Linked DNA regions of Homo sapiens. The protein of the gene in region 2 interacts with the protein of the main gene of each other region in a pairwise test. Each region holds a gene or a part of one and is shown on either strand. Other genes may lie near its edges.

Region 1 (3,823 bases), about 130 Mb from region 2:
GACAAAGGCAGACAGTGGAGTGGAGTGACACATGTACAAGTCAAAGGACACCAAGGATTGTGGGAAACCACTGGAAGCTACAAGAGCACCATGGAACAGATTCTCCCTCAGAAGCTCCAGAAGGAGCCAGCCCTGCCCACATATGCATTTCAAACTTCCAGCCTCCACTGCTGTAAGGGAACTCCATTTCTGTTGCTTTAAGCTACCCACTTTGTGGTACTTCATTTGATCCAGGAAGCCAATACAGCAGCTAACCTTTCTATTGTGCATAACTCAGGCCAGATGATTTCTAGCACTTGACATGTATGAACTCTTCACTGTTGTCCCTGCAAGGGATGGACTGTTAATATCCCATGTTATTATCCCATTTCCTTCATTACAGCCAAGGGAAACTGAGGTACAGAGAAGTTAATTAACTTGCCCAAGTTGTGGTTCCCACAGTCCAGGCCTGGAAGCGTGACCCCTTGCCCTTAACCACACCACCATCCTGCTCTCCTCTCTGCCTCTACAAGGTTCTGGGCTGGGTTTTCTGCTGGCTGGAAGGGGTCCCTGACCTGTGGCTGGAGCTCCTGAGCAGATAAAAAGATCACAGAATCCATCCAATGCCAAGTGAGGGTAGAGACAGCTACAAGAGGGGGCCAGGGAGTGGGGTGGGGCTGGGTGGGGGACTCACAGAGGGAGGACTGGGCTCTGGAGGCAAGGGAACCCCAGAGCCTGGAGGGTATTCAGGGAGAAGGGACAAGGCAACCTGAGGCTGATGGACTGCCTGCAGGAGCAGGAGAGGATTTGGTAGGAGCAGGGGTGGAACCTAGTTGGAGCCAGATATATGCTTTCATTGGTTCATTCAGCAACTATTTATTGAGGGCCTACTATGTGCCAAGCACTTCGAATCCAGCAGTGGGGAAAATAAAGTCCTCGTCATCCAAGAGCTTCTATTTCAGAGGGAAAACATAATAAACACAGAAGTCATCACTCACAGATCTGCTGCTGCAATGAAAAATAAGAAGGAGCCGGGCGTGGCGGCTCATGCCTGTAATCCCAGCGCTTTGGGAGGCCGAGGTGGGTGGATCACTTGAGGTCAGCAGTTTGAGACCAGCCTGGCCAACATGGTGAAACCCTGTCTCTACTAAAAATACAAAAATTAGCCGGGCGGTAGTGGCATGCACCTTTAATCCCAGCTATTTGGGAGGCTAAGGCAAGAGAATCTCTTGAGCCTGGGAGGCAGAGGTTGCAGTGAGCCGGGATCGTGCCACGGCACGTGTGGGCGACAGAATGAGACCCTGTCTCAAAAGAGAAAAAAAAAAGTAGGGTCAGGGGACTGAGCATGGTTGGGGAGGGCACTGTCCTAGACGGAGTGGCCAAGAAAGGTCTCTGAGGTGGTGGTCCAGTGCAGCAAGCGGGCAAGCCACGCAGTGGAGCAGCCTGTGGACAGACCGTCCACGTGGTCAGAAAAGTGGCCTGACAGACACTGGCACTAAGACACCCGCTTGTGCCTGAACTCAGTACCTAAAGCAGATTTGTGCCTCCTCCACTGCACTCCACTCTCGCTGCATCTATGCAGGCGATGGCCACAGAGCCTTTTGAGATCTGAAAACAGCTAAGTATTGTCTTTCAGGCAGCATCTCACACACAACCCACATGTGGCCAAACACAATTGCATCTAGCGGTGGGGGTTTAACAGACTCTGTCTGCAAGGAGAGGAGACCCTTCTGTCTGTCAGACGAGAGTACCAATGAGCAGTGGGAGCAGAAGGCCTGGCCTTCCAGGGGTCCCTGGAGAAAGCATTTTACACACCTGGGGCCTCTGCTTCTAGCCCTGCATCTGAGCAGTGCTCATCAGTCTGTCCCGGGAGGCCTCTTTTCCTCACTCCTCCTCCAAGCTAGGGAAGAGCAGGCTGGTTCTCTCCAACTCTCCTCTCCACCTGCCCCTCAGGCCCGTCTCTGTCCTTCCTGGCCCATGTTGATCCCCACCTCTGCACTGGGCTCAAGTAGCTCGCTGTGTCTGGAATGCCTGCCTCTTCCTCCTCCTTCCCTTCAAAACTGCCCATCCCAGTCCTGCCTCCTCCAGGAAGCCCATGCAGCTACATCAACCTGCTTCACTCCCATGTCCAATGATACCCTCATTGGGATGATGCCAAGCAGCTTACCAAGTGCTTTCTCATACATTACATAACAAGAACAACACTAGCTAACAAGTGTTAAGCACTAGGCTTGATGTGTATTAACTCTTCTCACAGTAACCCTATGAAGAAGGCATAGTATCATATCCCTATGTTACAGATGACAAAACTGAGGCCTAGGGAGATTCAGCGACTTGCCGAAGGCCACACAGGTAGTGTGTCTGGCTCCAGAGCCTACACTCCTAGTCACCACTGAACTCAGAAGTTGCTGGGAGGACTGAGGAACTCCTGTAACAGGAAATACAGCTTAGAGCAGTGCCTGGTGTGTAGTCAAGGCTGTGCTTGCTCCGACTGTTCCCCAGTGCTCTCCTACAGCTTTCCATCCTGTTAGGGAGAGGCTGTATCACATGCAGTGACTTGCCTACACCCATACGAACAAGCATCAAAGTCACATCCTGGATCCAGGTCCCCTGAGCACCAAGTCTAAAGTGGTGGCTCCTAGAGAACCAGCTGGGGCTGGCATTTCATCACAGATGGGCGGTGGAGGCTTCTGTGCAGGGAGGACAGAAACCCCTCAGCTGGCAGGGCTGCAGATCATGGAAAGGGACAAATGGGGTACTTTGCTCTGCCAGCCCCTTTGGTCCCAGAGACAGGCTGAGAGGTGGAGCAGGGCTGTGGGGACCCAGGAAACCCTTTCGCTGCGCCGGGCCCTCCTCCCGCCCCTGCCTGCCAGGGAAATCATTAGCTGTCAGAGCTGCCGTCAGATTACAGGGAATTGCTTGTCTCCTAATTATCTAGTGTTAATAGGAGATTAATTAGTGTTAATTGTTGATTTTCTTGTATTTTCCCAAAGGGGAGACCAATCTGCCGAACTCTTGGGCTGTTTAATTATTTGGTCTTGCTTAGGAATCCAGACAGATGCTTCTAGGTTTGTGAGCAAAGGGGAGAGGCTGGGATAGCAGGGGTGGTCCCAGGACAGGCAAGGCTGGGTGGGACAACACTCTGGGCTGAGCCAGAGGGGAACTGCCTACTCAGAGGGTGGTTTCGGTTCTGAGCCATCTCCTCTGAGAACGGATGTCCCCATCCCAGACCCAGCGCCCTCCATGACATTATCTATGCCCCTCCAGACACGACACAGCATGGGGCAAGGCCCCCTCACAGGGCATCAGTAGCACAGGTCTTCAAGTTGAACCTACTTAGGGGAAATTAAGATAAAGTAGGATATAAATTGAAATTGACAGTGAAAGGCATGTTCACAGGTGCCAGGACAGTGGCAGCTGTTCTGGGGGCTGTGGGTCCTATTAGATTCTCAGAAAGTGGGACCATGTCCATTTACAGACATTCAGGGGACCTTGAGCCTCCTGAAACAGGCTCACCCTCTTCCCTTGGACAGCCTCTCCTGCATCTGTCACTGAACTGATCCCACTGCTAGTGGGAGCTTCCTCAAGTGCTATTTTCATCAGTTTGCTGTGCTGATGAAGACCCTTAAACAACGCCCACCACCCACATCAGCCCTGACTTCTTCTGTCTTTTTGGATCCTTTATCTAATCTGGCCCCACTGCCCCCAGTCCGCCTTTATCACACATGCACAGTATATACATGCACATACATGCATGAACACATGTATACACACGCACACCATGTATACACATGCACACACACATGCACACACACACATTTCCCACTGATCTGTGTCTTCACCT
Region 2 (3,823 bases):
CCATATTCTATTTTTCCTCTGATTTCTATTTTAAGCAATATTTATTCATGTATAATCTTATCTTAGTATAGAGTTAAAATATTTTGACCTATTAGATGAAGGAGAATCAAAAGGCAAAGAATATTTCTGCATGCTAAAAGTCACTTCATAGTTTACAAGACATCAAACAACATGATCTTATTTGAGTTTCGTCTTGTTGGTGTGAACACTACAGGGCGGTTCAGAAGCAGGCTTCGTGTGCCCTGATCCAGCTCTTTTTTAATTATACAGCACCATGCCCAGGAGGCTCAGAACATGACTTCTCACCAACTGAGCATGTACTGAGTTGATTAAGTATTTTAAAAATAAAATGTGAATGAAAGTTCTATGTGGTTGGTTATACCATGTCAAACCAAAAAAGCTGAACAGTCTGTCATCACAGTATTGGTCCAACTCTTAGCAAATATCTTCTAATAATAGCTTGAAGTAATTCACTGGATTCTGAGAATTCCTTTCTGTCATCTAGCTTCTTCTGAGAGAGTCTCTAGAAGACATGATGCTACACTCAGCTTTGGGTCTCTGCCTCTTACTCGTCACAGTTTCTTCCAACCTTGCCATTGCAATAAAAAAGGAAAAGAGGCCTCCTCAGACACTCTCAAGAGGTGCTGTAATCTCATTTTATTTTCTAAACTCAGTCATTTGGATTGCTTTTTAAAATATCTGGTGTCTTCACTCATAGTCTAATTATAAAGCAAATTCAACTAACTGAATGATTTTTGTTGTGTGTGACTTCAAAATGGATTTTTTAAAACAGAAGGAATCAGTTTATTTTAGGCAGTGAATCAAATCAACTAGCAAACAATAACATAAATTTGCATTATCTTTTGCCAAAATAATGGAGAATTGGCTCGCTGTCTATAACTTTGGTAACCAGAGTCCTAGAAAATAATGATTGATTGCTGCGTCATATTGGTGTCCTAATAGCAATTTAAGATTCCTCAAAATTTGCTCAAATTCCCAGTCCTCTATTTCCCAGTCCTCCAAAAAAAAAAAAATTGGAATAATTTTATATAAGCCTTCCCAGAAAATTATACTATACCCCAAACTCTGAGAATTCGGGGTAACTAAGTCTTTGCTATATTGACTCTGGAAGACAGTGGTTTTAGACATAATCAAGGATTGCCGGTGGCTACATGTTTAGAAACATTTCTTTTTGTACTTACTGTTTTACTTGGCCCAAGAAACAAATATATATTCATCTGTAAAGAAACATTTTATTAAAAAAAATTCTCTCTTTTTTTTTTTTTTTGAGACGGAGTCTTGCTCTGTCACCCAGGCTGGAGTGTAGTGGCACGATCTTGGCTCACTGCAAGCTCTGCCTCCCGGGTTCACGCCATTCTCCTGCCTCAGCCTCCCAAGTAGCTGGGACTACAGGCGCCCGCCACCATGCCCGGCTAATTTTTTGTAGTTTTAGTAGAGACGGGGTTTCACCGTGTTAGCCAGGATGGTCTCGATCTCCTGACCTTGTGATCCGCCCGCCTCGGCCTCCCAAAGTGCTGGGATTACAGGCGTGAGCCACCGCGCCCGGCCAAGAAAATATTCTCAAAGTTAGTTTCTATATCTCTAAGTAACAGAAGTAGGAACAGAATTATTTGTCCCCATATAGCTATTCAAAATCAGCAGTATTACCACAAAGTACTTGACCATTTGTTTGCTCCATTCATATTACCACTGCAAATAGTAGTCAAGTGCCTTGGAGTAATACTGCTAGTTTTGAATAACCAAGTGGGAACAAATAATTCTGTTCCTACCTCTGATATATATATAAAATATATATAATTATAACATACAAATTATATATTATATATACTATATATTATATATAATATATATCATAGTATACATTTGTGTTATATTATAATAAATTATATATAAATATATGCTATAATTATAAATATATATTATATAATTTCAAATTCTAAAACACTGACTTGCTTCCCAAGTACATTCATTTCTTAACAGATGTATTGAGTGCCAGCCAAGTGCTCATCAATGTTTACCTAAGCTAATTAACTCTACTTCAGTTTAACAAACACACAATCTATATATACAGAAAGTCAACATATTTTTGCAAAAGAAAGGAATGAAAAAGTTGAAATATTTTCCTAAACATAACTCTATCTCTCTGTATAAGCATAACTGTTGTAAAACAATGAGCTCAGTAGCCCTAAAGTGACAAAGACTAAACTAGTTATTGCCCTTAAAGATTTTCCATGTCTGCATTAAGCAGCACTGTGATAACTATACGTCAAGGCATCAACATTCTGTGTGCTCACTTCTAAATATTTATTTAAAACTCTTGTTGAATGTTTTGAAAAAATATATTACATTTGTATGCCCTATTTTAAACAACTTAAAGGTTCTATTATTTCAATTGATAAGAAACTAATTTAACACAGAAGATGACTGATATTAGCTGAGAACACCATTATTGAGAATTGGTTTATATTTGGCAAAGTCTTTTACCATCTATTGCTACATGGGAGATAATGGAGAGAATGAGGCTCAGAATGAATGAAGATTAAAGGTAGGGGTGAGTGGGAGAAGTCTGGATACAGTATAAAGAGTGGCATATGGAGCCCCTTAGAGCACAGGGCAGCACTAGTTAAGTAGAGAAGGCAGTAAGGAGAAAAGGAAGATTAATTAGAAAAAGGTAGAAGAAGGTTCAGGGAGAAAAAAATACACACACATAGAATGATCCAAAAAAAATCCAATTTCCTTTGAATCAGAATTGCTGAGTACCTAGTCCAGTGATTGGCGGATAGTAAATATTTAATAAATATATGTTAGATAAATGAATAAAATCTCAAAAGACAAGAAAATATAGCCAGAGATAGAGATAGGGCTAGAATTAGAGTAATGAGCAGAAGCCATGAAGTGCATTTAAACTGTGTAACAGCTTTGACCTATTGTGATTATAACAGAGTAAATAAAAAATCATTATAATGCAATATGGCTTTTCTACAGAGCTATGGACAATTTGTTGAGAATAGGGATTATATTGCTCTATGTTTGTATTCCCACTGCTTTGTGGAGTAAGTTATGCAGCAGATGTTCCTTTACTGTTTGTGGAACTAAATTGAGCAGGAGCAGAGAATAGAAATTTTCCCCACTGCTAATGCTCCATCATTGAATGATATTTGCAACAGAAGAGGGAAAATTCAGCAGAGGCCTCGTCTCACTTGCTGTTTTAGAATAACTTTTACTTAATGCAAAATGTGATGTATAGATATTGCATGTGTTCAACCAAAGTTGGAAAGAGAATCTTTCAGGATTATTACAGAGAGCAAGAGTTCCTGTTAAGATGTGGCATTAAACTAACAAGAGATGTTTTTCAATGTTAAGATTTTAAATCAGGCAAAAAAAAACAAAAAACAAAAATGTTGCTGGTGAGTATATAAAATGATGCATCTACTTTAGAAAATAACCCGGCAGCTCCTCAAAAAGCTAAATACAGAGTGACCATTTGATCAGCAGTTCCACTCCTAGGTATATACCCAAGATAAATGAAAATATATACCACTGAAAAACTTGTATATGTATGTTCATAGCATCATTATTCATAAAAGACAAAAAGTGGAAACAACCCAAATATCATTAACTGATGAACAGATAAATAAAATATGGTATATTCATACAATGGAATAATATTTGACCATAAAAAATGAATTAAATAATAATACATGGCACTATAAGGATGAACCTTAAAAAGGTTATGCTGAGTGAAAAAATCTAGTCACAAAAGCCTACATATTGTATGATTCCATTTATATGAAATGTCCAG

The links.
Region 1: the proteins of AGR3 (region 2) and ASB10 interact in a two-hybrid assay, tested with the Homo sapiens proteins (one large-scale study listed by BioGRID and IntAct).

Annotation. Positions count from the first base shown.
Region 1 is NC_000007.14:151,176,958-151,180,780, forward strand, and holds part of ASB10 (ankyrin repeat and SOCS box protein 10), read right to left. Parts: intron 1-3,823. UniProt on the Homo sapiens protein: May be a substrate-recognition component of a SCF-like ECS (Elongin-Cullin-SOCS-box protein) E3 ubiquitin-protein ligase complex which mediates the ubiquitination and subsequent proteasomal degradation of target proteins.
Region 2 is NC_000007.14:16,875,328-16,879,150, reverse strand, and holds part of AGR3 (anterior gradient protein 3 precursor), read left to right. Parts: intron 1-505; 5' UTR 506-532; coding exon 533-641; intron 642-3,823. UniProt on the Homo sapiens protein: Required for calcium-mediated regulation of ciliary beat frequency and mucociliary clearance in the airway. Might be involved in the regulation of intracellular calcium in tracheal epithelial cells.